3 separate regions of the Homo sapiens genome follow, and regions 2 and 3 are each linked to region 1. The links come from fine-mapping of genetic effects on gene expression. A gene starts in region 1. Each other region holds a variant in brackets. All regions are shown on one strand. Distances are from middle to middle. Region 1 holds the start of TMEM38A (transmembrane protein 38A). Region 2 has its middle 20 kb from the start of NWD1. Region 3 overlaps TMEM38A (transmembrane protein 38A).

Region 1 (9,811 bases):
AATCACTTGAATCTGGGAGGTGAAGGTTGCAGTGAGCTGAGATCGTGCCACTGCACTCCAGCCTGGGCAGCAAAACAAGACTGCATCTCAAAAAAAAAAAAAAGGAAAAGAAAAGAAACAGAAAAGTAAGCAAGCCTGACCCAGAAAATGCCAGTATCCCAAGTAATATATTCCTCCCTAGACTTCCAAATAAACATCACCACCCCTCACAAATGCCTTAGACCTTATCCCTGACAAAATTCTCAATAGATCTTTACAATCGCTAGGAAAGGGAGTCTGGGGTTCTCTTACCAATGATCCCATTTCACAGACAAATAAACTGAAGCTCATGGTGGTGAAATAACCATTGTGGTGTTTACTCAGTGCTAGTGGTAGAACTGACTCCCATGATTCAGAGACGTTTAGTTTCTTTTTTCTTTTTTTTTTGAGACAGGGTCTCACTCTGTTGCCCAGGCTGGAGTGCAGTGGCACGATCATGGCTCACTGCAGCCTCCACCTTGCAGGGTTCAGGTAATCCTCCGACCTCAGCTTCCCTAGTAGCTAGGACTACAGGCACATGCCACCACACCTGGCTAATATTTTTGTATTTTGCATTTTTTAATTTTTATTTATTTGTTTATTGAGACGGAGTTTCATTCTTGTTGCCCAGGCTGGAGTGGAATGGCACAATCTTGGCTCACCGCAACCTCTGCCTCCCAGGTTCAAGCGATTCTCCTGCCTCAGCCTCCCTAGTAGCTGGGATTACAGGCATGTGCCACCACGTCCGGCTAATTTTGTATTTTTAGTAGAGACAGGGTTTCTCCATGTAGGTCAGGCTGGTCTTGAACTCCCGACCTCAGGTGATCTGCCCACCTCAGCCTCCCAAAGTGCTCGGATTACAGGCATGAGACACCGCGCCTAGCCATTTTTGTATTTTTTATAGAGAAGGGGTTTCACAATGTTGCCCAGGCTGGCCATGAACTCCTGGCCTCAAGCAATCTTCCAACCTTGACCTCCCCAAATGCTGAGATTATCTGACCTATGCTGACATTCTTTTTTTATTATTATTATTATTTTTTTAGGAGACACGGTCTTGCTCTGTTGCCCAGGCTGGAGGGCGGTGGGGTGATCATAGCTCGCTGCAGCTCCCAGGCAACATTGATGCTGCTCTGTTGAGGACCACACTCTGAGCTTCATCCATTCTCAGGATTCTCAAGAAAGCCTGACCCAGCCAGGCGCAGTTGAGCTCCAACTCCTGGGCTCAAGTGATCCTCCAGCCTCAGCTTCCCAAGTAGCTGGGACCACAGACACACACCACCATGCCTGGCTATGAAATTCTTAATTTCTGAACAAAAGGCCCCACACTGATACTTTGTATCGGCCTGGCAAATTCTGTAGCTGGTCCAGCACACAAATTCTGAGAAGAAAATTTACAGATACCCAGCACGCACACCAAACTGGGACTAACAGTTCAATCCGACACCTCACTTTTCTTTTCTTTCTTTCTTTTTTCCAAGACAGAGTCTCAGCCAGGCTCTGTCACCCAGGCTGGAGTGCAGCAGCGAGATTTCGGCTCACTGCAACCTCCGTCTCCTGGATTCAAGCTATTCTCATGTCTCAGCCTCCCAAGTACCTGGGATTACAGGCGTGCGCCACCACACCTGGCTATTTTTTTGCATTTGTAGTGGAGACGGGGTTTTGTCATGTTGCCCAGGCTGGTTTCAAAGTCCTGGGCTCAAGTGATCCACCCGCCTCGCCTCCCAAAGTGCTGGGATTACAGGCATAAGCCATCACATCTGGCCTCCAACACCTTTCTTTTCTAAGGAAACCAATCTCACATCAATTGTACTGATTCTTAGAGTCAAGCAGACCTGGGCTGAGTCCCGAGGCTGCAACTGACCAGCCATGGGACCACAGGCTCATTGTGTATTTAAGATAGCTTAGCCACTATTTCCTGTTTCCCCAGTTATGAAAGGAGGAGGTTGAACTGGGTGGAGTATCCTCAGCCCTGATAACAGACATCAGTCACTGAGGGAGGGGAGATTAATATTCTGATTCAATTGGTGGGGGGTGGAGATAGGGGGTTTAAAAGCTCCTAGGAGGCCGGGCGCAGTGGCTCACACCTGTAATCCCAGCACTTTGGGAGGCCGAGGCAGGCGGATCACAAGGTCAGGAAATCGAGACCATCCTGGCTAATACGGTGAAACCCTGTCTCTACTAAAAATACAAAAAAAAAAAAAATTAGCCGGGCATGGTGGTGGGCGCCTGTAGTCCCAGCTACTTGGGAGGCTGAGGCAGGAGAATGGTGTGAACCCAGGAGGCGGAGCTTGCAGTGAGCAGAGGCGGCGCCACCGCACTCCAGCCTGGGCGACAGAGCGAGACTCCGTTTCAAAAAAAAAAAAGAAAAGAAAAAAAGCTCCCAGGAGCGTCTCATGAATTCATGAATAGCCAGGGTTTGGAACCACTTCTCAGCCTTCAGGAACCTTCAGGCTCTGGCACTTAGAGCCTGGATGGCTTATTCTAGGACTTCTGCAGAAATATCTTGAACCTTCCTGCAAGTTCCCAGGCAGCTTGGAGACCTCTTTTCTCAAGACATTTGTGTCCTACATTCCCACAGGGCTCCAACCCTCCTCAGTTTCAGATTTTTTTTTTTTTCGAGACAGAGTCTTGCTCTGTCGCCCAGGCTGGAGTGCAATGGCGTGATCTCGGCTCACTGCAACCTCCGCCTCCCAGGTTCAAGTGATTCTCCTGCCTCAGCCTCCCAAGCAGCTAGGATTACAAGCATGTGCCACCATGCCTGGCTAATTTTTTTATTTTCAGTAGAGACGGGGTTTCTCCATGTTGGCCAGGCTGGTCTCGAACTCCTGACCTCAGGCGATCTGCCCGTCTTGGCCTCCCAAAGTGCTGGGATTACAGGCGTGAGCCACTGTGCCCAGCCAGTTTCAGATTTTCTAAGGTTCTGCAACTGCCCAAGGAACTGGCCTGAACCACCAAGAATTCTTCCCCAGAAAGGAAAGATAGCCCCATGTTCATGCTAGGACAACACAAAAGCCTATTTTGTTTTGCAAAGTAATGTTCTCCAGGATAGCTTTTAAGAAAATAGGCTCTGGCATGTGGATAGGCAAAAATAGAATAAAAATTCCTAGCAAATAGAGTGTAATCCTGTTAGCATAAGAGCGTGCATTGGCTGGGTGCAGTGGCTCACGTCTGTAATCCCAGCACTTTGGGAGGCCTAGGTGGGTGGATCACAAGGTCAGGAGATCGAGACTATCCTGGCCAACATGGTGAAGGCTTGTCTCTACTAAAAATACAAAAATTAGCCAAGTGTAGTGGCGGGTGCCTGTAGTCCCAGCTACTCAGAAGGCTGAGGCAGGAGAATCGCTTGAACCTGGAAGGTGGAGGTTGCAGTGAGCCGAGATCACGCCACTGCACTCCAGCCTGGGCGACAGAGCGAAACTCCATCTAAAAAAAAAACCGCAAAAAAAAAAAAAAAAAAAAAAGCGTGCATTTACGTTTATAACTATATAGCCGTAAATGAATAGAAGAGACATCAAGAAAGGTGGCTGGCCACCAGTATGTTGACAGTAATTCTCTTTTTTTCCTTTGCCCTTTTCAGTTTGAGTTTTTAGTAAACAGGGGCGCTTATTTTTATCCTCTGAGAATAAAGCTATTTCCTTTCTGAGCTATAGTGGTAATTTACATCTAAGTGGGAGAAAGGCTTATGAAGTTTGGGGTTCCTTTATTTTTCTAAGCCTAAAATCTATTATCTAGTAAGTTGCTGGTGTTCTAGAATAACGGTGAACAAGAAACATTTAAACATTTGTTCACGGTGAACCTTTTATAAAAATAGAACACGTTCTAAGGAAGCCATTCATCCTCATTTTAAAAATTAAGAAGCAGGCTGTACCCTCCTGTGACCTCCCCAGCGTGGAGTCTGGAGCTGAGATGGAGGACACTGACCCCAAGTCACCCAGCCTTGGGGCCGGTTCTGCTCCGTAAGTGGAAAGGATCTGGAGCCAGGGCTGGAAGAATTCCCGTGGGGGCTCGGAGATTCAGCACCGTGGGGGAAGGGAGGGGAGTGGAGGGTGCTGGGCAGTTGCAGTGGGGAGGAGAACCGGTGTCACTTTCGCTGAACCTGACCGCAGCCCCCAGCGCAGTGGCCCTTATAGACACTCCGCTGGCGCTCTCAATCCGCGTGCCAAGGTCAAGGAGGGAGGTCACACCTGCGCGCGGCCAGAACAGATGCACCGACCCCCACCTGCACCCTCGCCACAGCCGGCGCCCCTTGCCCAAGTTCCTGCAGCTCTGACCCAACCAGGAGCCCCGACCCCAAGCACCTGTTCCCCCTCCTCTAAACCCGCGCACGCCTCTCCTTCCCCTCCCCCAGCTTCATCGTCCTGGGGGCTTCTCCCCCGGGCTCACCCCGGCGTGAGAGAACCCCACGATTCTAGCGCCTGCCTACTCCCACGATGCAATCCTTGAACCTGTCCCTCGCTCCCTCCACCACGCACGGGCTTCCCCTCTCTGCGACCCCCGAGCTGCCCCGGCCCGCGCCACCCGCTGCCGGTCCCCTCCAGCCCCCCGCCCCGGCTCACCTGGCTCATACTTGAGGTAGAGGATGGAGACGATGAAGTAACTGAGGTCGAAGACGGGGAAGAGCGGCACCCGCGAGAAGCTGAGCGCCAGTTCGCCCAGGCTCAGCGCCGAGAGCAGCTCCATGGCGCCCGCCTGCCCGCCTGCCGGGTGCCACCCGGGGCCCCGGCCTCGTCCGTCCCGCCGCCCGCGGCCCGGCGACTGCGCCCCCGCAGCTGGGCCCGCCCCCGCCCGCCAGGCGCCACCCCAGGCCCGGCCCCCGCGGGAGAGGAGGGGCGACGGCCCACCCCGGGACAGGTGGTGGGGACGCCCAGCACCACGGACGCAGCTGGACGGTCGGGCGTCCCAGGCGTTGACCCTCCTGCCATCGCTACCCCGTTCCGCCCAGCGAGGCGGGGTGCGGGGCACCCGTGCAAGGCGAGGGAGGCTGGGGAGCTGCCTGTTCTGGGGGCCCGTCCCTCACGGAGCCCACCCACGCGGGACGCCCGTTCCCAGGGGGCCGGATCGGCCAGGACTTTGTCCCCGTGGGCTCAATTAGGACCCCGATCTTCGGTGGAGCCCAGTGAGGACCCCTACGCCATGGTGGGACCCCATGAATCAGAACCCCTGTTCCCCGTGGAGATAGGTTAGGACCTCGGTCCTCTGTGGAGCCCCGTCAAGACTTTTCTGCCCCATAGGGTCCGTTCGATCAGGAACCCCGTCTCCGGTGGGGCTCTGCAAATCAGGACGTCTTGTGGGGGGCAGCTCAGTGGGAACCCCCGTTCCCCATGGGGCCCAGGAGGATCTCATTTTAGAGCCCAGTTGGTTGGGGCACCCGTTTCTAGGGACCCCACTGCGTCAGGACCCCGCACCCTGTGCAGCTCAGGAGTCAAAGGATTCCTTTTGTCCAGAAGCCCAATTTGGGACCCCAGAAAGTGAGTAGGAATTGCTGCCCAGCTAACCCTACGGCATCGAGACCTCACGCATGCGCGGCACGCTTCGAACGCGTGACCCAATCCCGCCCCCAGGAGACCCCGCTCCTCCCATTCTGGCTCTCGGGGCCTCCCCAGCGAGGTGGGGCGCTCGCGCTCCCCTAAGGGGGTCTGGCCTGCAGAGGGCGGGACCCTCCCAGCCTTGACCTTCGATTGGCCCAGCCCTCGCCACTGTTGCTTTAGGATTGGTCGGCTTGTGCTCCTCTCCCCTCCCTCCCTGGGGCTTCCGCTTCCGGTTCTGACGGACGCTTCGGCCGTAACGATGATCGGAGACATCCTGCTGTTCGGGTAATTAGGGGGACCAGAGGCTGGGAAGAGAGAGCCAGGCAGGACGCGGGGGCGCCCCTAGTAACTGTAATTCTCCCTCTGCAGGACGTTGCTGATGAATGCCGGGGCGGTGCTGAACTTTAAGCTGTGAGTAGGTCGCGGCCGGACTGCGGCTCCATCCGGGGAACCCGTAGCCCCGCCCTCATAAGCGTGATCTCGGCGCACTTCTCAGGCCCCGCCCCCAAGCCGCAGGCCCCGCCCTATCCGCCCTCTGGGCACGCCTCCAGCCTGGTTTATCTTCCTCGCCCCCCACCCCCCGAGAGACCTTAAACCCATACTCTCCGTTCCTTGGTTGTCCCTCTGTTCACCTTCCTGGAGAGCTTAAGCCCCATCCCCCAAGAAATAGCCCCACCGCGGACCTTCCGCCCTGCACCCGCACTGTCGGGCCACTTTGTAAACGGTCGGTGGCTGCTGACCTGGCTGTGATTGTCCGGGCAGTGGGGGCCCAGAGAAGGGTATTGAACGTCAGAGGTCACACAGCAAGTTTGCGGCAGGGCCAGGGCTGAAACTTAGTGTTTGTGGCCTTCTGAGCTGGGGGTCAGGGGGCTGAGGACTCTATGTCCCATTGAAAGTGGACACTGTCTGCTCCTCTTTGTAGGAAAAAGAAGGACACGCAGGGCTTTGGGGAGGAGTCCAGGGAGCCCAGCACAGGTAAGGTCTAATTGGATCCTGGAATTGCATGGTCCACTTCAGAGGACAGTTCTGTTTCGCCAAGCCCTACCTTCGTTTTCTTTCTTTCTCTTTTTTTTTTTTTTTTTTTTTTGACACAAGGTCTTGCTCTGTTGTCCAGGTTGGAGTGCAGTGGTGCGATCATGGCTCACTGCAGACTCGACCTCCTGAGCTAAAGTGATCCTTCCACCTCAGCCCCCTTAGTAGCTGGGATTACAGGTGTGTGCCACCATGCCAGGCTAAATTTTGTATTTTTTGTAGAGATGGGGTTTCTCCACGTTGCCCAGGCCGGTCTCGAACTCCTGGGTTCAAGTGATCCCTGCCTTGGCCTCCCGAAGAGCTGGGATTACAGGCGTGAGCCACAAGTTTTCTCTTTAATTGAGCGTGTGTGTGAGTGGGAGATGACTGAGAATGTGCTAGCCTTTCTGCCTACCTCTGTCATCTATTTCTTTCTCCTACCAGACCTCCCTGATGTGAGCACTCACATCACTTCCTACCGTTATAATGTTCTGTTATGTTTGCTGTCATCTGGCTAATGTCTGCCCCTCACATATGACTGTAAACTTCAGAGAAGAGGCCCTAGCTTGGCTTGTCCCATCCTTTGTTCTTGCCGTACCCGTCCTCCGATGCCTGTGAATGAATGAATGAACAACCTCACACATAGCTGTTGCTTTCAGAGTGCTGCAGACCTGCCACTTTTAAAATTAGATGCCAACATTAGATTTTTAATCAGGAGATTTTATATAAAAATTAAGATGTCTGATTTTTCTTGAAAAATTGGAACATTCTGCAACTCAAGATTCAGGAGAGCTGTTTGCATCTATTGAGTGTAGTTGAGAAGGACTCTGAGGAGGTGGGGCCTGTAGACTCTGCCTCATCCCAGCCCTAACCCCTTCATATGTCTATCATCTGCCTGGGCCCTGGAGGCCCCAGAATTTACACTTCCTGCTGAATTTGATTGTGTAACTATTTGGAGTCTTAAGGGGATCTGTACATGACTATTGTATCCATTCATTAATTCTTTCATTCACCAGATATTTGAGTACCTAACGCATGCTGGCTACTGTGCTAGGTGCTGGGGTACAGCAGGGGTAAGACAGATAGAGTGGAACTTACCATGGGGTGGGACACATGGTTTCTAAGCAGGGAATAGATAGTGACAGAGGTGACGTTAGGTGACAGAGGCAGGGAGTCACAGGATGGTGATGGGGTTGCCCTCCTGCTGGGGTGTGGAAGGGAAGGCCATTTGAGGAGGCGGCGTCACAGTCAAGGCGGTGGATGCCATGATGGAGCACTGCCCAAGGATGGGGGAACCCTGAGGAACAGAGGTTTTCTTCTTTTAGAGACAGGGTCTTGCTCTGTTGCCCAGGCTGGAGTGCAGCGGCACAGTCATAGCTCACTGCAGCCTTGAGCTCCTGGGTTCAAGAGATCCTCTTGCCTCAGGCTCCCAAGTAGCTGGGACTACAGGCACTTACTACCACGCCTGGCTAATTTTCTAAATGTTTTTTGTAGAGATAGGTATCTCGCTGTGTTAACCAGGCTGGTGTCCAACTCTTGGTCTCAAACGATCCTCCCACCTCAGCCTCCCAAAGTGCTGGGATCACAGGCATGAGCTACCACGCCTGGCCGAGCTGAGATTTTGAAGACACTCCAGCAGCTCCCCTTTTTGGGGGCCTGCCCTTGGGTGCTGACCCAGTTAGGTGCTTCCTGTTAGTGTTGCATTCTCCCTCCATTCTTAAAAGATAATGGTCACTTTCCCATTTTACAGATCAGGAAACTGAGGGTCAGAGATGTGGCTCAACTTTTTTGTGGCCACATAGGGAATCAATGAGAATCAGGATTAGAACCTGGGTTTTTCTGACTCTAGCGGTTGTGCACTCAATCACTAGACCATCTGTCCGTCTATCCATTGATCCATCCATTCATACATTGACTCAGCAGCCATGTGTTACTTAACCCCCACGTGGAAGGCACTACCAGGCCCTAGAGTTGCACTGTACAGATCCGAATCAGAGCTCCAGTGGGCGGGAGATTTGGCACAAAGTGGCAGGAGCATCAGTGACAGGGATGCCAGGCAGGGCACCAGTGCTCTGTCAGGAGCTTCCTGCTTTGCTGTGTCCAGTCTCCTTCCAGCCCAGGTGCTGCACCTGCTGCTTCCCCTGTGGGAGCTGCTCTTTGCCCTCCATCCTCTTTGCCTGGCTTAACTGTAATACCATAGTGGCTGCATTTGTTGAGAGCGTCATGCGTGCCAGGCAGTGTGCTAAGGTCTTCCTAGCTGCCTGACACCCCTATTGACACAAGAGGGAATGCACATAGATAGTGCAGGGATGGTCCCAGGTCACCAGGTCACCTGTGCAGAAGGACAGAGGCAGGATTTGAGCTCACATTTGTTAAACTGCCCATGTTTGAGGTCAGAACTTGGAGCTCTGGCACTTCCTCAGAAAGCCTGTTTTTTGTTTTTTTGTTGTTTTTTTTTTTGAGATGGAGCCTCTCTCTGTTGCCCAGGCTGGAGTGCAGTGGCACCATCTCAGCTCCCTGCAATCTCCGCTTCCTGGGTTCAAGCAATTCTCCTGCCTCAGCTTCCCTATTAGCTGGGATTACAGGCACCCACCACCATGCCCAGCTAATTTTTGTATTTTTAGTAGAGATGGGGTTTCGCCATGTTGGCCAGGCTGGTCTCGAACTCCTGACATCAGGTGATCTGCCCTCCTTGGCCTCCCAAAGTGCTGGGATTACAGACTTGAGCGACGGCACCCGGCTGGAAAGGCTTTTTTTTTACCTCCCACCCTTCCCCATGCACATGCCATGTTGGGTCTCTGCAGTGTGTATTCCCAGGACACCCAAACTTTCCCACCAGAGCAGTCACATGTGAATATTTGTTTAGTATTTCTCCTCCCCATATGCTTGTTGGGGCAGAGCCACCGGTCTTTGTTTCTTTCTGTATCCCCTGTATACTGCTGTTGCCTGGAATGAGTAACCTTTTTTTATTTTTTGAGACAGAGTCTCACTCTGTTGCCCAGGCGTGCAGTGGCGTGATCTCAGCTCACTGCAGCCTCCACCTCCTGGGTTCAAGTGATTTTCGTGCCTCAGCCTCCCGAGGATTTGGGATTACAGGCACGCGCCACCACGCCCTGCTAATTGTTTTGTAGTTTTAATAGAAACGTGGTTTCACGATGTTAGCCAGGCTGATCTCAAACTCGCGACCTCAGGTGATCCACCTGCCTCGGCCTCCCAAAGTGCTGGGATTACAGTTGTGAGCCACTGCACCCGGC
Region 2 (9,811 bases), 39 kb before region 1:
CCCCCACTCCAAGCCTCCCAAAGTTCTGGGATTACAGGCGTGAGCCACTGTGCCCAGCCTGGCTTCAACATATCTTTTGGGGGGGACACAATTTGCCCCATAACAGGAGAGGGCATGTCTTTTTCATATTCTGACTAGCAATACGGGAGGTCCACATAAAATTCCCCTGCTGAGGATTCAGTCCTTGGTCATCTCTAGAAAACGTGATTGAATGATGGTTTGCTGCCTCCACAGCCAAGCTAGTGGCCTTTCTCGGGTAACACCATTTTTACTGGAAATGTCTGACAAACTGTGATTCAGATGTGGCTGCTTGGCAGACATTTTCTCAAAAATGAACAAAATGAGGCTGTCACTTCAAGGAAAACAATTTCAGGTTTTGTTGCCCACAATAAAATTCAAGCTTTTAAGGAGAAATCAGAATTTTGGAAAATGTGTAGCCACCACTGTGAGTTTGGCAGCTTCTTGACATTTAAAGACTTTTCTAAGCCTGTAACCCCAGCTACTTGGGAAGCTGAGGCGAGAAGATCACTTGAGGTCAGGAGTTTGAGACCAGCCTGGGCAACAAAGTGAAACCCTGTCTCTATAAAAAGTTTTTTAAAAAAATTATCCCGGCGTGCTGGCATGTGCGCCTACAGTCCCAGCTACCAAGGAGGCTGAGGTGGGAGGATCATTTGAGCCCAGGAGGTCAAGGCTGCAGTGAGCTATGATTGCACGGCTGCACACTTTTCTGATGAGATGAATAGTGATATTAATGAAGAGGACTTTTTTGATACAAAATAATGTAATGGGACAACATCTGCATCACTCATTGAACTAATATTTTCCAAATGATCAATGCATGTTATAGGCATGAATGAGTAGAACCATTCCCAGTGTAAGACAGACCAAAGACTTTTTTTTTTCTTTTGAAACAAGGTCTCACGTTGACACCAAAGCTGGAGTGCAGTGGCATAATCTCAGGTCACTGCAACCTCTGCCTCCCAGGCTCAAGAGACCCTCCCACCTCAGCCTCCCAAGTTAGCTGGGACCACAGACACACGCCAGCATGCCAGACTAATTTTTGTTCATATTTGTAAAGATGGGGTCTTGCTACATTGCCCAGGTTGGTCTCAAAAACTCCGGGGCTCAAGCAATCCACCCACCTTATCCTCCCTAAATGTTGGGATTATAGGCGTGAGCCACCATGCCTGGCCTCAGACCAATGTTGTTGTTGTTTTTGTTTTGTTTTGTTTTTGTTTGTTTTGAGACAGAGTCTCACTGTCTCACTCAGGCTGGAGTGCAGTGGCACGATCTCAGCTCACTGTGACCTCTGCCTCCCAGGTTCAAGCAATTCTTGTGCCTCTGCCTCTCGAGTAGCTGGGATTACAGGCACGTGCCACCATGCCTGGCTAATTTTTGTATTTTTAATAGAGATGGGGTTTCGCCATGTTGGCCAGGCTGGTCCGAACTCCTGGCCTCAAGTGATCCTCCTTCCTCTGCCTCACAAAGTGCTGGGATTACAGGCATGAGCTACCACACCCAGCCCCATGGTCAGTTTCTGTTGAGGAAACATGGACATTTGCGGGATGGTGAGATACTCATTTGTGCAGCTCAGAGTTTGATAAATTTCTCTTGGTTTTTGCCTAGTTAATTGCAATGTTCACTTCCTCTATGAATTCAGATATTTAGAGTTAGAAGGGATCTTCAGCATCATCCAGTCCAGGGGTTGGCCAACATTTTCTGCAAAGGGCCAGAGAGTGAATATTTTCAGCTGTGCAGGTAAGGTGGTCTGTTGAAATCACTCAACTCTGCTGTTGTAGCACAAGATCCACTATAGGTACCAGGCACAGTGGCTCAGGCCTGTAATCCCAGCACTTTGGGATGCCGAGGCGGGCAGATCACCTGAGGTCAGGAGTTTGAGACCAGCCTGGTCAACATGGTGAAACCCCGTCTCTACTAAAACTACAAAAATTAGCCGGGCGTGGTGGCAGGTGCCCGTAACCCCAGCTACTTGGGAGGCTGAGGCAAAAGAACCACTTGAACCTGGGAGGCGGAGGTTATAGTGAGCCTAGATCACACCACTGTACTCCAGCCTGGGCAACAAGAGCGAAACTCCGTCTCAAAAAAGAAAATAATAATAATAATAATAAATCTCTATAGGCGATAAGTAAACAAATGAGCATGGCTGCGTGCCAAGAAAATTTTATTTACAAACACAAGTAGGGGCCAGATTTGGCCCTTGGGCCATGGTTTACACACTCTTGACCTGCCTGGTTCAACATTTTTCTTTCTTTTTTTTTTTTTCAACTGAGGCAGAGTCTCGCTGTGTTGCCCAGGCTGAAGTGCAGTGGTGTGATCTCGGCTCACTGCAACCTCCGCCTCCTGGGTTCAAGCAATTCTCCTGCCTCAGCCTCCCGAGTAGCTGGGATTACAGGTGCCCACCACCACACCTGGCTAATTTTTGTACTTAGTAGAGATGAGGTTTTGCCATGTTGGCCAGGCTGGTCTTGAACTCCTGACCTCAAGTGATCTGCCCACCTAGGCCTCCCAAAGTGCTGGAATTACAGGACTTTGGGAGCCACCGGGCCGGCCTAGTTCAACATTTTCAATCAGCCAAGAAGGGTTCACCAAAGGTCACACGCAAGTTAGTTGCAAAACCAGAGCTCACACTCAGGCCTGCCAACATCTGTCTTTGTGCAGTCACTTTCACCTCTCAGCTGGCTTCAATGGCCTCAATTTCCTCCACTAATTGAGCTGGGAGTTTTCCTACATGCCTTCAGGCAGGCGCTAACAGGAAAGCACAGTGTAAACGCAGTCATAACCACCCACGTCTGTGGTCACCAGGGATGATGATCTAGGAACCAGGAGAGCAGGATAAGAACTTGCCTTTGCTAATGCCTGCTCTAGGTATTATTTGCTGATGCCTGCTCAGTGTCAAGGATAATGCTGAATTGTTCCATGCATGTATCTTACATATTCCTAAAGAGAATCAGAGAAGTGAAATGTGCAAGAAAAAGCATAGCTTTAGAATGAGATGGGCCTGGATTTCAATTCTTTTTTTTTTTTTTTTTTTTTTTTGAGATGGAGTTTCACTCATTCTGTCACCCAAGCTGGAGTGCTGTGGCGTGATCTCGGCTCATTGCAACCTCTGCCTCCCAGGCTCAAGCAATTCTCCTGCTTCAGCCTCCCGAGGAGCTGGGATTACAGGCATGTGCCACCTTGTCTGGGTGATTTTTTGTATTTTAGTAGAGACGGGGTTTCGCCATGTTGGCCAGGCTGGTCTCGAACTCCTGAACTTAGGTGATCTGCCTGCCTTGGCCTCCCACAGTGCTGGGATTACAGGCGTGAGCTACTGCACCAAGACTGGATTTCAATTCTGACCCACTGTCAGTAAGAGGTGACTGACCTCCACTCACCTTAGCACCCAGCCTCATTTATTTTCCACAAAATGAGGGTAACAAACCACCTTGACGATCTATTATATGTAAAATACCTGCTTATGGCTGGGCATGGTGGCTCACACCTGTAATCCCAGCATTTTAGGAGGCCAAAGTGGGAGCATCACTTGAGGCCAGGAGTTCAAGACCAGCCTGGGCAACATAGCAAGACCTCATCTCTACAAAACATTTAAAAATTAGCCAGGTGTGGTGGTGTACACCTGTAGTCCCAGCTACTTGGGAGGCTGAGGCAGGAGGATCAATTGAACTTAGGAGTTTGAAGCTGTAGTGTGGGATAATTGCACCACAGTGGCTCACACCTGTAATCCCAACAGTTTGGGAGGCCGAGGCAGGAGGATCACTTGAATCCAGAAATTCGAGGTCAGCCTGGGCAACATGATGAAACCCCATCTCTACTAAAAATACAAAAAATTAGCCAGCGTGGTGGTGCTCACCTGTAATCCCAGCTACTCAGGAGTCTGAGTGGAAGGATCACCTGAGCCCAGGAGACAGAGGTTGCAGTGATCCAAGATCGCACCACTGCACCACTCCAGCGTGGGCGACAGAGCAAGAACCTGTCTCCAAAAAAAAAAAAAAAAAAAAAGGCATTTCCATACACCTAACCTACTGAACATCATAGCTTCACCTAGTTGTCCTTAAACATGGTCAGAAAACTTACATTAACCTACACTTGGGCAAAATCAACTAACGCAAAGCCCATTTTGTAATAAAGTGTTGAATAGCTCATGTAATTTATTAAATACTGTCCTGAAAGTAAAATAGAATGGTGGTGTGGGTACTTGAAGCATGGTTTCTACTGAATGTGAATCTCTTTCGAAACATTTATTTTTTGTTTATTTTTATTTTTATTTTATTTATTTATTTATTTTGAGACAGAGTCTCAGAGTCTTGCTCTGTCGTCCAGGCTAGAGTGCAATGGCACAGTCTCGGCTCACTGCAACCTCCACCTCCCCAGTTCAAGTGATTCTCCTGCCTCAGCCTTCCAAGTAGCTGGGATTACAGGTGCCCACCACGTCTGGCAAATTTTTTTGTATTTTTAGTAGAGACCAGGTTTCACCATGTTGGCCAGGCTGGTCTCAAACTCCTGACCTCAGGTGATCCGCCCACCTCGGCCTCCCAAAGTCCTGGGATTACAGGCGCCCACCACCATGCCTGGCTAATTTTTTTTGTATTTTTAGCAGAGACAGGGTTTCACCATGTTGGCCAGGCTGGTCTCAAACTCCTGACCTCAGGTGATCCACCCGCCTCGGCCTCCCGAAGTGCTGGGATTACAGGCGTGAGCCACTGCACCTGGCCTCTTTTGAAACATTGTAAACTCAAGAAAA[T/C]TGTAATTTGTAAATCGGAGAGCACCTGTATTGTATGATTGTACCTATATGAGGTTCCTAGAGTCATCAAATTCAGAGAGACAAAGTACAATGGTGCTGCCAAGGGCTGGAAGAGGGAAGTGGGGAGTGAGTGTTTAATGGGTACCTTTGCAGGATGAAAAGATTTCTGGAGCTGGGTAATGGTGGTGGTTGCACAACAATGTGAATATACTTTTTTTTTTTTAGATGGAGTCTCGCTCTGTTGCCCAGGCTGGAGTACAATGGCACAGTCTGGGCTCACTGCAAACTCCGCCTCCTGGGTTTAAGTGATTCTCCTGCCTCAGCCTCCTGAGTAGCTGAGATTACAAGTGCGTGCCACTGCGCCCAGCTAATTTTTGTATTTTTAGTAGAGATGGGGTTTCACCATATTGGCCAGGCTGGTCTTGAACTCCTGACCTCAAGTGATCCACCCGCCTTGGCCTCCCAAAGTGCTGGGATTACAGGCATGGGCCACCATGCCTAGCCAATGTGAATATACTTAATGCCCCTGAAGTATACACTCAAATGTGGCTAAGAAATTTAGGACATGTGTGGTGGCTCATGCCTGTAATCCCAGCACTTTGAGAAGCCAAGGTGGGTGGATTGCTTGAGCTCAGGAGCTTGAGACCAGCCTGGGCAACATGGTGAAACCCGGTGTCTACTAAAAATACAAAAAAATTAGCCAGGCATGGTGGTGCACACCTGTAGTCCCAGCTACTTGGGAGGCTGAGGTGGGAGGATGGATTGAGCCCAGGAGGTCAAGGCTGCAGTGAGCTGTGATTGTGCCACTGCACTTCAGCCTGGGCAATAGAGCAAGACCCTGTCTCAAACAAACAAAAAAAAGATGATAAGTTTTATGTTGTGTATTTTACCACAATTTTTTTTAAAAAGGATAAAAAGAAACTTTCTCTCATTCCAAGACCAAGGAAGTTACTGAGTGTAACTTGCAGCCAAATTAGCCTGGACTTTGAGAGCCGATCCTCCAAGTTCTCACACCCACACTGGGACAACAGCCCCAGCCTGCCCCGCCAATCATTCTCCACCTGGCCAGTGGCTTGCACACCCCCTTCGCAGACTAGGCTGGGAGGCTATTTTGGTACAATCTGTTCTCTTGGAAAATGAGATCTCAGAACATTAGTGCCAGAAGGCAGGGAGCCGACTTATCTCCAACACCCACCAGATGCTAAATGAACCCGACCAGGGGTTCTGTGAGCACTTTGACAGAGGCAGCTTTTGTCCCAACTCCAGACCTCACTTTGTGCCAAGGACTTTCCAGTCACTCCTCCTAGCCATCCTAAGAGGAAATTGAGGCTCAGAGAAGGGGAGTTACTTGCCCAAGCTACGTATCTCGGAGATTAAAAGCCAGGGTTTGGCCAGGCATGGTGGCTAACACCTGTAATCCCAGCACTTTGGGAGACCGAGGCGGGTAGGATCACTTGAGGTCAGAAGTTCAAGACCACCCTGGCCAACATGTTGAAACCCTGACTCTACTAAAAATACAAAAATTAGCCAGGCATGGTGGCTCTTGCCTGCAATCCCAGCTACACGGGATGCTGTGGCAGGAGAATCACTTGAACCCGAGAGGCGGAGGTTGCAGTGAGCCAAGATGGCACCACTGCACTCCAGCTTGGGCAACAGAGTGAGAATCTGTCAAAAAAAAAAAAAAAAAAAAAAACAAAGACAGGATTTGAACAGATTTGGGAAACCCCAAAGGCTGCTCTCTTTTTCCTTTTCTTTTTAGATTAAGGTAGAATTTAGCCACAAAATTCTGCAAGGTTTTTTTTGTAGTGTTTCTTTGTGGGTTTTTTGTTTTGTTTGTTGTTTGTTTTTTTGTTTGTTGTTTTGAGACAGGTCTGGCTCTGTTGCCCAGGCTGCAGTGCAGTGGTGCAATTTCGGCTCACTGCAACCTCTGCCTCCCAGGCTCAAGTGATTCTCCCACATCAGCCTCCTGAGTAGCTAGGACTACAGGCACATGCCACCATGCCCGGCTAATTTTTGTATTTTTTGCAGAAATGGGGTTTCACCATGATACCCAGGCTAGTCTCAAAGTCCTGGCCTCAGGTGATCCTCCCACCTCAGCCTCCCAAAAGGGCTACGCTGCCGGGCGAATTCTGCAAGTTTATACAAACATATACAGTTGTGTAACTACTGCCACGTTAAAAATGCAGAACAGTCCCTTCCCTCCCAAAATTCCTCTGTCTCTCTTGTGGATAATCTCTCCTTCCATCTCAACTCCTGGCAGCCACTGATCTGTTTTCTATACTTAAAATTTTGTCTTTCCTTTTCTTTTCTTTTTTTTTTTTTTGAGACGGAGTCTCGCTCTGTCACCCAGGCTGGAGTGCAGTGGTGCACGATCTCAGCTCACTGCAACCTCTGCCTCCTGGGTTCAAGCAATTCTCCTGCCTCAGCCTCCTGAGTAGCTGGGACTACAGGCACCTGCCACCCCCAGCTAATTTTTGTATTTTTAGTAGAGGCAGGGTTTCAGGCTGGTCTCAAACTCCTGACCTCAAATGATCCACCCACCTCGGCCTCCCAAAGTGCTGGGATTACAGGTGTGAGCCACTGCACCTAGCCCAAAATTTTGTATTTCTAAAATGACCTACAGCCGAGTATGTGGCACGCACCTGCAATCCCTGCCACTCAGGAGGGTGAGGCGGGAGGATCCCTTGAGCCTGGGAATTTGAGGCTGTAATGATCCATGTTCCTGCCACTGCACTCCAGCCTGGGTGACAAAGCAATACCCCATCTCTAAAGATAAAATGTCCCGCCAATGGGAGCACACAGTCTCTTGGGTCTGGATTCTTTCATTTAGCAAATGCATTTGAGATTCAACCACACTGCTGTAGAAGGTCACTCCTTTTCATTGCTGTGTAATGTTCCATCACATGCATAAACCAGGTGGCTCATCCGCTTACCAACTGATGGACATTTGGGATGTTCCCAGTTTTTGGTGATTACCAAAAAAAAAAAAAATAGGTGAATTTTTGTTTCACCACAATGGGACTGTTGTGTTTATAGGGTAAGTGATGTTTAATTTAATAAGAAACTATCAGGGATTGTTGTGTTTATAGGGTAAGTGATGTTTAATTTAATAAGAAACTATCAGTCTGGGCAAGGTGGCTCACACCTGTAATCTCAGCACTTTGGGAGGCTGAGGCAGGAGGATCACTTGAGCCCAGGAGTTTCAGACCAGCCTGGGCAACAGGGCGAGACATCATCTATATAAAAAATACAAAAATTATCTGGATGTGGTGATGTGTGCCTGTAGTCCCAGCTACTCAAGCGGCTGAGGCGGGAGGATCACATGAGCCCAGGAGGTCGAGGCTGAAGTGACCTATGACTGCACCACTGGACTCCAGCCTGGATGACAGAGTGATACCCTATCTCAAATAAATACATAAATAAATAAATTTAAAAGAAACTGTCCAATTGTCTCCCACCAGCAGTGTGCGAGCTCCAGCTGCCCCCAAATCTTTACCTGCACCAGGCATTGTCAGTTACTTTAATTTAATCCATCCTTAAAGGACGCTGGACACAGAGACTCACATCCCTTTGTTTTGGGAGACCAAGGTAGGAAGATCACCTGAGTCCAAAATTAGCCCCAAGGTGATGGTATTAGGAGGTGCGGCCCTTGGGAGGTGATTAGGTCATGAGGATGTGGCCCTCATAATGGGATTAGTGCCCTTCCACAAGAGGCCCCCAAGAAACTCCTTGATCTTTCTACCATGTGGGGACACCAAAAGAAGACACCATCTGTGAACCAGATAGCCAGCCCTTACCAGACAGTGAATCTGCCAGCATTTTGATCTTGAACTTCCCAGCCTCCAGAACCATGAAAAATAAATTTCTGTTGTTTACAAGCCACCAGTTTATAGTATTTTGTTGTAGCACACTGAAAGGACTAAAACAGGAGATAAGGTCTTTTTTTTTTAAATTTTTTTAGCACCAAACTGATTGAGATAAGGTCTTTAAAGAGACAATTAAGTTAAAATAGTCAGTCAAGCAGGGTGGCTCACATGCCTGTAATCCCAGCACTTTGGGAGGCTGAGGTGGGTGGATCACTTGAGATCAAGAGTTTAAGACCAGCCTGGCCAACGTGGTGAAACTCCATCTCTACTAAAAATACAAAAATTAGCCAGGCATGGTGGCACGTGCCTGTAATCCCAGCTACTCGGGAGGCTGAGGCATGAGAATCACTTGAACCCGGGAAGTGGAGGTTGCAGTGAGCCGAGATGGCGCCACTGCACGCCAGCCTAGGCCACAAAGCCAGACTCCATCTCAAAAAAAAAAAAAAAGATAATTAAGTTTTAAAAAAAGTCTATAGGTGGGCCCTGATCTAATTCACTGGTGTCCTCGTAGGCAGAGGAGACTAGGATACAGACATACGAAGAGGGAAGACTATACGAGGACAGAGAAGGCGGCCGTCTGCCACCCAAGCAGAGAGGCCTTGAGAAACAAAACCAACTGACACCTTGATGTCAAACTTCCACCCTCAAGAATTAGGGAAAAATAAATGTCTGTGGCTTAAGCGACTCTGTCTGGAGTATGTTACTGCAGCCTATTCATTTATTTATGAGACAGGGTCTCACTCTGTCATCCACGCTGGAGTGCAGTGGTGCAATCTCAGCTCATTGCAGCCTCGAACTCCTGGGCTCAAGCGATCCTCCCACCTCTGCCTCCTGAGTAGCTGGGATTACAGGCTCACATCACCACAACTGGCTAATTTTTTTTTTTTTTTTTTTCTGCAGAGACTGGGTCTCACTGTGTTGGCCAGGCTGGTCATGAACTCCTCAGCTCAAGTGATCCTTTGGCCTCGGCCTCCCAAAGTGCGGGGATTACAGGCATGAGCCACCATGCCCAGACTTTTTTTCCTTATAATTGAAAGCTTCTTTTTTTATAGCTTTACTGAGGCATAACTGATAGATGAACTATGCATATATAAAATGAAAACTTTTAAGTACTTAGGTTGAATGAGTGGGAAAAAAAGAAGTAAAAAATAATTAATTAAAAATAAATAAAAAAGAGGCCGGC
Region 3 (9,811 bases), 28 kb before region 1:
TTTTAAAGACAGAGTCTTGCTCTGTCACCCATGCTTCAGTACAGTGGCACCATCACAGCTCACTGCAGCCTCAACCTCCTGGGCTAAAACAGTCCTCCGTCCTGCACCTCCCAAAGCCCTGGGATTATAGGTGTGAGTCACCCATGACCACCCTATGTTTAACTTATAGTGTTTTTGTTTTGTTGGTTTTTTTTTTTTGAGACGGAGTCTTGCTCTGTCACCCAGGCTGGAGTGCAGTGGCGCAATCTCAGCTCACTGCAACCTCTGCCTCCTGGGTTCAAGTGATTCTCCCGTCTTAGCCTCCTGAGTAGCTGGGATTACAGGCAGGTGCCACCATGCCTGGCTAATTTTTGTATTTTTACAAAATTACACCTTGTTGGGGTTTCACCATGTTGGTCAGGCTGATCTCAAACTCCTGATCTCAAGTGATCTGCCCACCTCGGCCTCCCAAAGTGCTGGGATTACAGGGGTGAGCCACTGTGCCAGGCTAACATTTTGTTTTTTGTTTTGTTTTGTTTTGGTTTTTTTTTTTTTTTTTTTTTTTTTTTTGGAGATAGAATCTTGCTCTGTCACCCAGGCTGGAGTGCAGCGGTGCAATCTCAGCTCACTGCAACCTCCCCATCCCAGGTTCAAGGGCTCCTCCCGCCTCAGCCTTCAAGTAGCTGGGATTATAGGTGCACACCACCACGCCTGGCTAATTTTTTGTATTTGTAGCAGAGACAGGGTTTCACAACGTTGACCAGGCTGGTCTCGAACTCCTGAACTCAAGTGATCTGCCCACCTTGGCCTCCCAAAGTGCTGGGATTACAGACGTAAGCGATTGCACCTGGCTTCTATGTTTAACTTATAAAAAAACCTGCCAAATTGTCTTCCAAAGTGGTTGCACCTTTTTACCTTCCTACCAAAGCATATGAGAGTTCCTATTGCTCCACATCCTCACCAGCACTAAAATGACCATATTGTCATTTTAATTTTAGCCATTTTGTTGGATGTGAAGTGACAACTCACTGTGGTTTTGATTTGCATTCTTCTCATGGCTGAAGATGTGTATCTGACTGGGCATGGTGGCTCACGCCTGTAATCCCAGCATTTTGGGAGGCTGAGGCAGGAGGATTGCTTGAGCCCAAGAGTTCAAGGCCAGTGTGGGCAACAGAGCACGACTCCGACTCTACAAAAAATACAAAACTTTGCCAGGCATGGTGGCATGCACCTGTAGTCCCAGCTACTCAGGGGGCTGATGTGGAAGGATCGCTTGAACCCAGGAGGCGGAGGTTACAGTGAGCCAAGATTGAGCCACTGCATTCCAGCTTGGGCGACAGAGCAATACCCTGTCTCAAAAAAAAATGTAAAAAATTAAAAATTTTAAAAACATAAAAAACCTTAAAAGAAACTGTCCAATTGTCTCCCACCAGCAGTGTGTGAGTTCCAGCTGCCCCCAAATCCTTACCTACACTGGATATTGTCGGTTATTTTTATTTTATCCATTCTAAAAGGTGGCGGGGAGCAGTGGCTCATGCTTGTAATCCCAGCACTTTGGGAGGCCAAGGCAAGAGGATCACTTGAGCCAGAAGCTGGAGACCAGCCTGGGTAACATAGGGAGACCCCAACTCTACAAAAAAATTAGGCCGGGTGCGGTGGCTCACCCCTGTAATCCCAGCACTTTGGGAGGCCGAGGCAGGTGGATTACCTGAGGTCAGGAGTTCCAGACCAGCCTGGCCAACATGGTGAAACCCTGTCTCTACTAAAAATACAAAAAATTAGCTGGGCGTGGTGGCACATGCCTGTAATCCCAGAGGCTGAGGCAGGAGAATCGATCGAACCTGGGAGGCAGGGATTGCAGTGAGCTGAGATGGCGCCACTGCACTCCAGCCTGGGCAACAAGAGGGAAACTCCATCTCCAAAAGAAAAAAAAAAAAAGGCCTTATCTCCTGTCTTAGTCCATTTAGGGTGCTACAAGAAAATACTAGAAAATGGTGGCTTATAAACAACGGAAATTTATTTCTCACAGTTCTGGAGGCTGGGAAGTTCATGATCAAGATACTGGCAGATTCACTGTGTGGTAAGGGCCGGCTTCCTGGTTCATACGTGTCTTCTCTCTGTGTCCTCACATGGTAGGAAGAGCAAAGTGTTTCTTTGGGGCCTCTTCTGTAAGGGCACTAATCCCATTATGAGAGCCCCACCCTCATGACCTAATCATCTCCCAAGGGTCCCACCCCCTAATACCTTAGGGGTTAAGACTTCAACAAATGAATTTGAGAGGAACCCAATTCAATTCATAACAGGTATGCAGTGGCATATGCTTGTGGTTTTAATGTGCAATTTATATGATATCTGCCAACCATATAATTTCTTTGGTGGTGTCTATTCAAATCTTTTGCCCAGTTTTTTTTTGAGACAGGGTCTTGCTATGTTGCCCAGGTTGGACACCACCTAACGGGCTCAAGTGATCCTCCTGCCTTGGTCTCCAGAGTAGCTAGGACTACAGGTGTGAGTCACCATGCCCAGCTTCTTTTGCCCAATTTGGTGTGGAGTTTTTTTCTACTTTATTCTTATTTTATTTATTTATTTGAGACAGGGTCTCACTGTTCCGCCCAGGCTGAAGTGCAGTGGCCCAATCTTAGCTCACTGCAGCCTCAACCTCCTGGGCTGAAGTGATTTTCCCCACTCAACCTCCAGAGTGCCTGGGCCTACAGGCACGAGTCACCACCCCCGGCTAATTTTTAAATTTTTTTTTGTAGAGACAGAGTCTCACTATGTTGTGCAGGCTGATCACCAACTCCTGGGCTCCAGTGATCCTCCTGCCTCAGCCTCCCAAAGTGCTGGGATTACAGGCGTGAGCCACCAAGCTCGCACTTTTTTCCCTTATAATTGAAGGGTTCTTTTTTACAGCTTTATTGAGGCATCACTGACAAATGAGGTACTGTGTGTATTTGCAATGTACAATGTAATAGGTTCTGACATGTGTATAGACCCGAGAAACTAACACAATCAAAGAAGTTAACAGACTCATCACTCATGTCCCCTTGCCCCTTCAAAATCCCTCCTGCCCACCCCACCCTACCTGCCTTTCCCCAAGCACCCACTGATCAGCTTTCTGTAATTATACATTAGTTTGCTTTTTCTAGGATTTCATATAATGTATGTAATGTATACTGTACACAGTATACATTTTTTTTTTTTTTGAGATGGAGTCTCGCTCTGTCTGCCAGGCTGGAGTGCTGTGGCGCGATCTCCGCTCACTGCAAGCTCTGCCTCCCAGGTTCACGCCATTCTCCTGCCTCAGCCTCCCAAGTAGCTGGGACTACAGGCGCCCGCCACCACATCCAGCTGATTTTTTGTATTTTTAGTAGAGATGGGGTTTCACCATGTTAGCCAGGATGGTCTTGATCTACTGAACTCGTGATCCACCGACCTCGTGATCCACCTGCCTTGGCCTCCCAAAGTGCTGGGATTACAGGTGTGAGCCACCATGCCCAGCCTTTTTTTTTTTTTTTTTTTTTTAAAGAATGAGTTTTGCTCTTGTTGTCCAGGCTGGAGTGCAATGTCTCCACCTCAGCTCACCGCAACCTCCACCTCCCAGGTTCAAGCGATTCTCCTGCTTCAGCCTCCCGAGTAGCTGGGATTACAGGCACCTGCCACCACACCTGACTAATTTTTGTAGTTTTAGTAGAGGCAGGGTTTCACCATGTTGGCCAGGCTGGTCTTGAACTCCTGACCTCAGGTGATCTGCCCGCTTCAGCCCTCCAAAGTGCTGAGATTACAGGGATGAGCCACCATGCCCAGCCATCCCCACATCTTGAGGCCAAAATCCCAGGCATGTGGCTGGGCTCAGTGGCTCACACCTGTAATCCCAGCACTTTGGGAGGCCAAGGTGGGTGGATCATTTGAGGTCAGGAGTTCAAGACCAGCATGGCAACATGGTGAAACCCCGCTTTTACTAAAAATACAAAAATTAGCCAGGTGTGATGGCGGGCACCTATTATCCCAGCTACTCGGGAGGCTGAGGCAGGAGAATTGCTTGAACCCGGGAGGTGGAGGTTGCAGGGAGCCAAGATCGGGCCACTGCACTCCAGCCTGGGCAAGAGTGAGACTCGGTCTCAAACAAAAACAAAAACAAAAAACAAAATCCCAGGCATAAATCAGACAAGCCATGAGGGTTCATTCACAATGATTTATTGGCTGCCCCTCCACACCGAGCTGAGGTGGACAAGCAAGAGGATGAAACCTCCCCAGGACCCACCTAACTCCCAGGCATCACAGGAACAAGGCAATTTTCCAACAGCCTGGCAACGTCTGGGACTCCAACGAGGTCTGGGCCCAAACCTCACCTGAGACTGGCCACGCCCGTCCCATGCACCCACCCCTCTCAGACATCCTGGTGACCTAGGCTGAGATGAGGGTGACCAGGAGGGACCCTTCAGCTATAATATCATCCACCTCGCTCACACTGAAGCAGGCTCCTGGCCCGCCCAGCAGCAGCACAAGGCTGACCACAGAGCAGGTAAGCATCTGTATGTTTGTTCAATGGCTGAATGAGTGACAGTGGACTCCAGCCTGAGGGAGACCTGATACATCCAGGTCCCAACTGTGCACACTCAGAGCCCCTTGATAGAGCTGGATCGTGGAACCCCAACCAGCTGTTTCCATTTCTTTGGTTTAGGGGGAGCCTGAGACGAACAGATCACAAGCCTTTCACGCCATCTGATCTCTCAAGCCTGCCCTAGACGTGTCTACTGAGGGCTTCCTTTGTGCCAGGGAACTTGTGCGTTTCTCTGATCCACACACACGAATGATCTAAAATGCAAAGCCATTTGCAATCATAATTTCCAACTGTCCTGGTCTCCCCTCCTGACTGCACGAGGCTAGGAGCATGTGAGCCTTTTTTAACTGCAGCTTCGCATCGGCCCTTCCGTACAGAGGGGGGCCAAGGGTCTCCACTATACAGATGGGGAGCGCCAAGCTCAGAGGAGGAAGGCAACTTGTCCAGGGACGCCCAGCAAGAGTCGGGACTTTCTGGCCACGTGAAAATGTCTAGCCACTGAGGAGC[G/A]TGGTAAGAAGAGACTTTGAAATGGCAGCACCTGGCTCACAGGTACTTAGAAAATGTCCATCAAATGAATGGATCTCAACATGGCTTGAAGTTCTTCAGGAGTCAATATGCAATTTTTTTTTTTTTTTTTGAGACAGGGTCTTGCTGGAGACAGGTCTTATTGGCCAGGCTGGAGTGCAGTGGGAAGATCTCAGCTCACTGCAACCTCCACCTCCTGGATTCATGTGATTCTCCTGCCTCAGCCTCCCGAGTAGCTGGGATTAAAGGCGTGCACCACCACGTCTGGCTAATTTTTGTATTTTTGGTAGAGATGGGGTTTCACCATGTTGGCCAAGCTGGTCTTGAACTCCTGACCTCAGGTGATCTGCCCGCCTCGGCCTCCCAAAGTGCTAGGATTATAGGCATGAGCCACTGTGCCTGGTCAAGATGCAATTTTAAAGAAGGAAAAATACAACTAAGAATATCATGCCAACCAGTGACATTCTTGACTGGAGCTGCTGCCAGGATTCTGTGAACCCCTCCAAAAGCTGTGACTCTATGGGGTCCTGGCAGAGAGAAAGAGGGAACCCCGATTTCTACAAAAGTTCTTCATCCTCATCCCCATATCTCAACCCCCACATCAGCCCTGGAGGGTGAGCCAATGACCCTGATTTGCAGATGGGGAAGTCAAGGCCAGGAAAGGATAGATCTGAGCGCAGGAAGCCTCCCAGCTCAGAGGGTCCTGGGTCCGGGTCCTCTCCCCGGTGCCCCTTGGGCCACCCCCTAATCCGCCTTCTTGGCCTTCTTCTTCCTGGAGCCCTCGCTCAACTCCTCCTTGGACTTGGCGGGCATGGCCGAATGCTGAGCTCCTGGCCCACCACCGCTGTGGGACCCACCATGGTTGTCGTGGTGATGGTCACCCCCGCAGGCCGAACCAAACAGCACGGGGCAGATGTAGCCCTCCAGGGCATCAAAGGGGGAGCTGTGTGAGTGGGTGGCTGTCAGAAACACCTGAGGTGGGGTGGCCAGGGAGACAGCAAGAGAGACAGAGGGAGACCAAGGTAGAAAGCAAAGGAGTGGAGGGCAGGGTGGGGAGAAGAGGGGAGAGAATGTCATCAAAGTCAAGGTTGGAGGTAGCCCAGACCCAGCCCTCTGGCTGCATGCACCCCCAGGATGATGGGCGACCATCTCAGGTTTCCCAGGATGCCAGATTTCAAGTGTTGACCCCTGGAAAGTTCCAAGCACACTGAGACTGCTGGTCACCCATCCCCCAGAATTCCCCACGACACCTGGGCTCAGAGAAAAGCTGTGCTAAGTGCAGGTCTGAAGGTCTGTGTCCTCCCAAATTCATATGTTGAAACCTATCACAAAGGTGATGGTATTAGGAGGTAAGGCCTTTGGAGGGGTAATTAGATCATAAGGGTGGAGCCCTCAGGAAAGACATTAGTGCCCTTATAAAGAGGCCCAGGAGAGCTAACCAGTCCCTTCCACCATGCGAGGACACAGTGAGATGCTGCCTATCTGCAACCAGTAAAGAGGGCCCTCACCAGAACCCGACCAGGCTAGTACCCTGATCTTGGACTTCCCAGCCTCCAGAACTGTAAGAAATACATTTCTTCCTTTTCCTTTTTTTGGAGACAGGGTCTCACTCTGTTGCCCAAACTGGAGTGCAATGGCATGATCTCAGGTCACTGCAGCCTCCACCTCCTGGGTTCAAGCAATTCTCATGCCTCAGCCATCCAAGTAGCTGGGATTACAGGCATGCGCCACCACGCCTGGTTAATTTTTGTATTTGTATTTTGTTTGCCTGTTTGTTTGTTTTTGAGACAGAGTCTCAATTTGTTGCCCAGGCTGGAGTGCGGTGGTGCGATCTTAGCTCACTGCAACCTCCACCTCCCGGGTTCAAGCGATTCTCCTGCCTCAGCCTCCCGAGTAGCTGGGATTACAGGCATGTGACCCCACGCCTGGCTAATTTTTGTATTTTTAGGAGAGATGGGGTTTCGCCATGTTGCCCAGGCTGGTCTTGAACTCCTGGCCTCAAGTGATCTGCCTGCCTTGGCCCCCTGAAGTGTTGGCATGAGCCCCCGTGCCTGCCCAGGAATAAATTTCTGTTGTTTCTAAGCCACCCAGTCTATGGTACTGCATTCTGTTATACAGCAGCCTGAATGGACTAAGACATTTGGCCTGGGGTAGAGCTACAAACATAGCAGGACAGGATCCCAGCCATCTGCTTGCCTCTCCCTTCTCGCCTAATGCAGGAAGACATGCTCACTCCCTTTTGACAGCCCTGGAGTCCTCACCCAGGGAAGACACAGCCCTGAGCTAAGATCTTCATGCAGAGGGAGAGAGCCCAGCCCCTGAAGACCCCTCCTGGGTGGGGTGATGTCAACTCAAGGCATGACTGTCAGACTAGAAGTATTCCTGGTCCAACTGAGTTCCTGGGTACCTGATGCTGCCATTTCAGCTTCTTGTCCCTCTGGTCTCTGTACCCAAGAGAGTGGGCCCACCTTGACCCTGGCTCAGGCTGGGTCCTTTACACAGAAGGCCTGTTCCTCTCATCTGTGTCCTGGCTGCTGGACACTGCCTTTTAAACTCTCTTCCCAGTGACCTACTGGCAAGCATCTCCCCTCTCTGGGCTGCCTGTCCCAGCCACATAAGGCTGGGAGTGTCCAATTTCCCCACTCCCAACCTGGAGGTGGCAGGGTGGCATTGGTCAAGGCAAGAATGCTGCAAGAAGAGAAAGGCTTACCTTACAGGACACCATGAACAAGGTGAAGATGAAGATGAGGCTGGCTTTGGACACTGGGAGCCAGCGGGTCTGCTGGAGGGTGAAGAGGATGGCTCCATACAGGCTGGCCTTGGTGGGGCTGGAGGGAGCAGCTGTCATTACCGGGAGGTGCCTGCATGGCTCAAGTCTTCATAACTCTGGCCCAGACACCCCCCTGCCCTGGCACCAGCTCCCATCCCAGCTTCTCTCTTTTCTTTTCCTTTTGAGATGGAATCTCACTCTGTTGCCCAGGCTGGAGTGCAGTGGCACAACCTCGGCTCACTGCAACCTCCACCTCCTTGTTTCAAGTGTTTCTCCCACCTCAGCCTCCCAAGTAGCTGGGATTACAGGCATATGCCACCATGCCTGGCTAATTTTTGTATTTTTAGGAGAGACAGTGTTTCACCATGTTGGCCAGGTTGGTCTCGAACTCCTGGCCTCAAGTGATCTGCTCGGCCTCCCAAAGTGCTGGGATTATAGGCATGAGCCACTGCGCCCAGCCACAGCTTCTCCTGATTGTAAGGTGGCAGGTTGAGATGGTGTCATCCTATGCATGATGGGTTAACCTGGTCCAAGGAAAGATCTGGCCTTTGTCCAGCTCCTGGAATATGCCCTCTAAGCCCTTGGAGTGTCCTGCCTTGATAAGACTGTCTTTGTTTGCCTGAGGACGGCCTTGGGCCACACCAGGTAGTAACAACGTAATTTATGGTGGGGGTCTTGGGCCATGCAGCATCAGGTGGACCTCTAGAGGGGCTGAAGACTGAGGTCAGCCACACAGGTGGTTAGCTAGTTCTGAGCCACAATAAAAATCCTGGATACCCAGGCTCAGAAGAGCTTCCCTGGTTGGCAGTACACCATGCATGTTGTCACACATTGCTGCTGGGAGAATGAAGCCCTGTCCACATGATTCCACTGGGAGAGGAAAACTGGATATTTTCACCTTTTCTTTCCTGTACTCTGCCTCATGCACATTTTGCCCCTGCTGATTTCTTGTTTGTGTATGAGTCAGAGTCTCATTCTGTCACCCAGGCTGGAATGCAGTGGCATGATCTCAGCTCCCTGCAACCTCCACCTCCTGGGTTCAAGTGATTTTCCTGCCTCAGCCTCCCGAGTAGCTGGGATTACAGATGCCCGCCACCACGCCAGCTGATTTTTGTATTTTTACTAGAGATGGGGTTTCGCCATGTCGGCCGGGCTGGTTTTGAACTCCTGACCTCAAATAATCCACCCGCCTCAGCCTCCCAAAGTGCTGGGATTACAGGCATGAGCTACCACGCCCAGCCAACCCCTGCTGATTTCGTTTTATTTATTTATTTATTTATTTATTTATTTATTTACAGAGACAGGGTCTCTCTCTATCACCCAGGCTGGAGTGCAGTGGTCTGATCATGGCTCACTGTAACTTCAAACTCTGAGGCTCAAGTGATTCTCCCACCTCAGCCCCCCAAGTAGCTAGGGCTAGAGTTATGTGCCACTGTGCCTGCTTAATTTTTAAGTTTTTTTTTTTTTTTTGTAGAGATGGAGTCTTGTTCTATTGCATAGGCTGGTCTTGAACTCCTGGCCTTGAGCAATCCTCCTATCTCGGCCTCCCACAGTGCTGGGATTACAGGTGTGAGCTGCCTCTGCTGATTTTATTCTATATCTTGTCACTGTAATAAATCATAACCCTGAATATAATGGCTTTGCTAAGTTCTCTGAGTCCTTCTAGCAAATCATGGAACATCAGGATGATCTTGGGGATCCCCCATCAGCTTATTTCCCCCAGAAAATGTGATTACAACATGCAGAGTTTTCCTTAACTTTTATTTTTTTCCTTGCAAAATAGGTTTAAGATATTTTTATTTGTTGCAAAAGACAGACCTGTGACTTCTATTCCTGATGTCTGTCTCTCATTGCTTTTTTTTTTTTGAGACAAGGTCTCGCTCTGTTGCCCAGGCTGGAGTACACTTGTGTGATCACAGCTCACTCCAGCTTCAACCTTCTGAGACCAAGCGATCTTCCTGCCTCAGCGTCCTGAG

Evidence for each region.
Region 2: its variant is fine-mapped to the expression of TMEM38A in nasal epithelium (TOPMed, PIP 0.92).
Region 3: its variant is fine-mapped to the expression of TMEM38A in whole blood (TOPMed, PIP above 0.99).

The regions. Positions count from the first base shown.
Region 1 is chr19:16,656,105-16,665,915 of GRCh38, reverse strand. TMEM38A (transmembrane protein 38A) reads right to left here and starts at 4,777. Exons shown (of 6, transcript NM_024074.4): 1 at 4,575-4,777. The coding sequence starts at 4,698. SMIM7 (small integral membrane protein 7) reads left to right here and starts at 5,772. Exons shown (of 5, transcript NM_024104.4): 1 at 5,772-5,831; 2 at 5,916-5,957; 3 at 6,469-6,521. The coding sequence starts at 5,806. RefSeq lists an enhancer at 3,616-4,424 and silencers at 4,710-4,959, 4,980-5,179.
Region 2 is chr19:16,695,212-16,705,022 of GRCh38, reverse strand. No RefSeq gene overlaps it. Among named protein-coding and RNA genes, the nearest start is that of NWD1, 20 kb to the left of the region's middle. The variant T/C (reference allele first, on the strand shown) is at 4,763.
Region 3 is chr19:16,684,370-16,694,180 of GRCh38, reverse strand. TMEM38A (transmembrane protein 38A) reads right to left here. Exons shown (of 6, transcript NM_024074.4): 5 at 7,776-7,893; 6 at 4,158-6,037. The coding sequence ends at 5,810. Among named protein-coding and RNA genes, the nearest start is that of TMEM38A, 28 kb to the right of the region's middle. The variant G/A (reference allele first, on the strand shown) is at 5,048.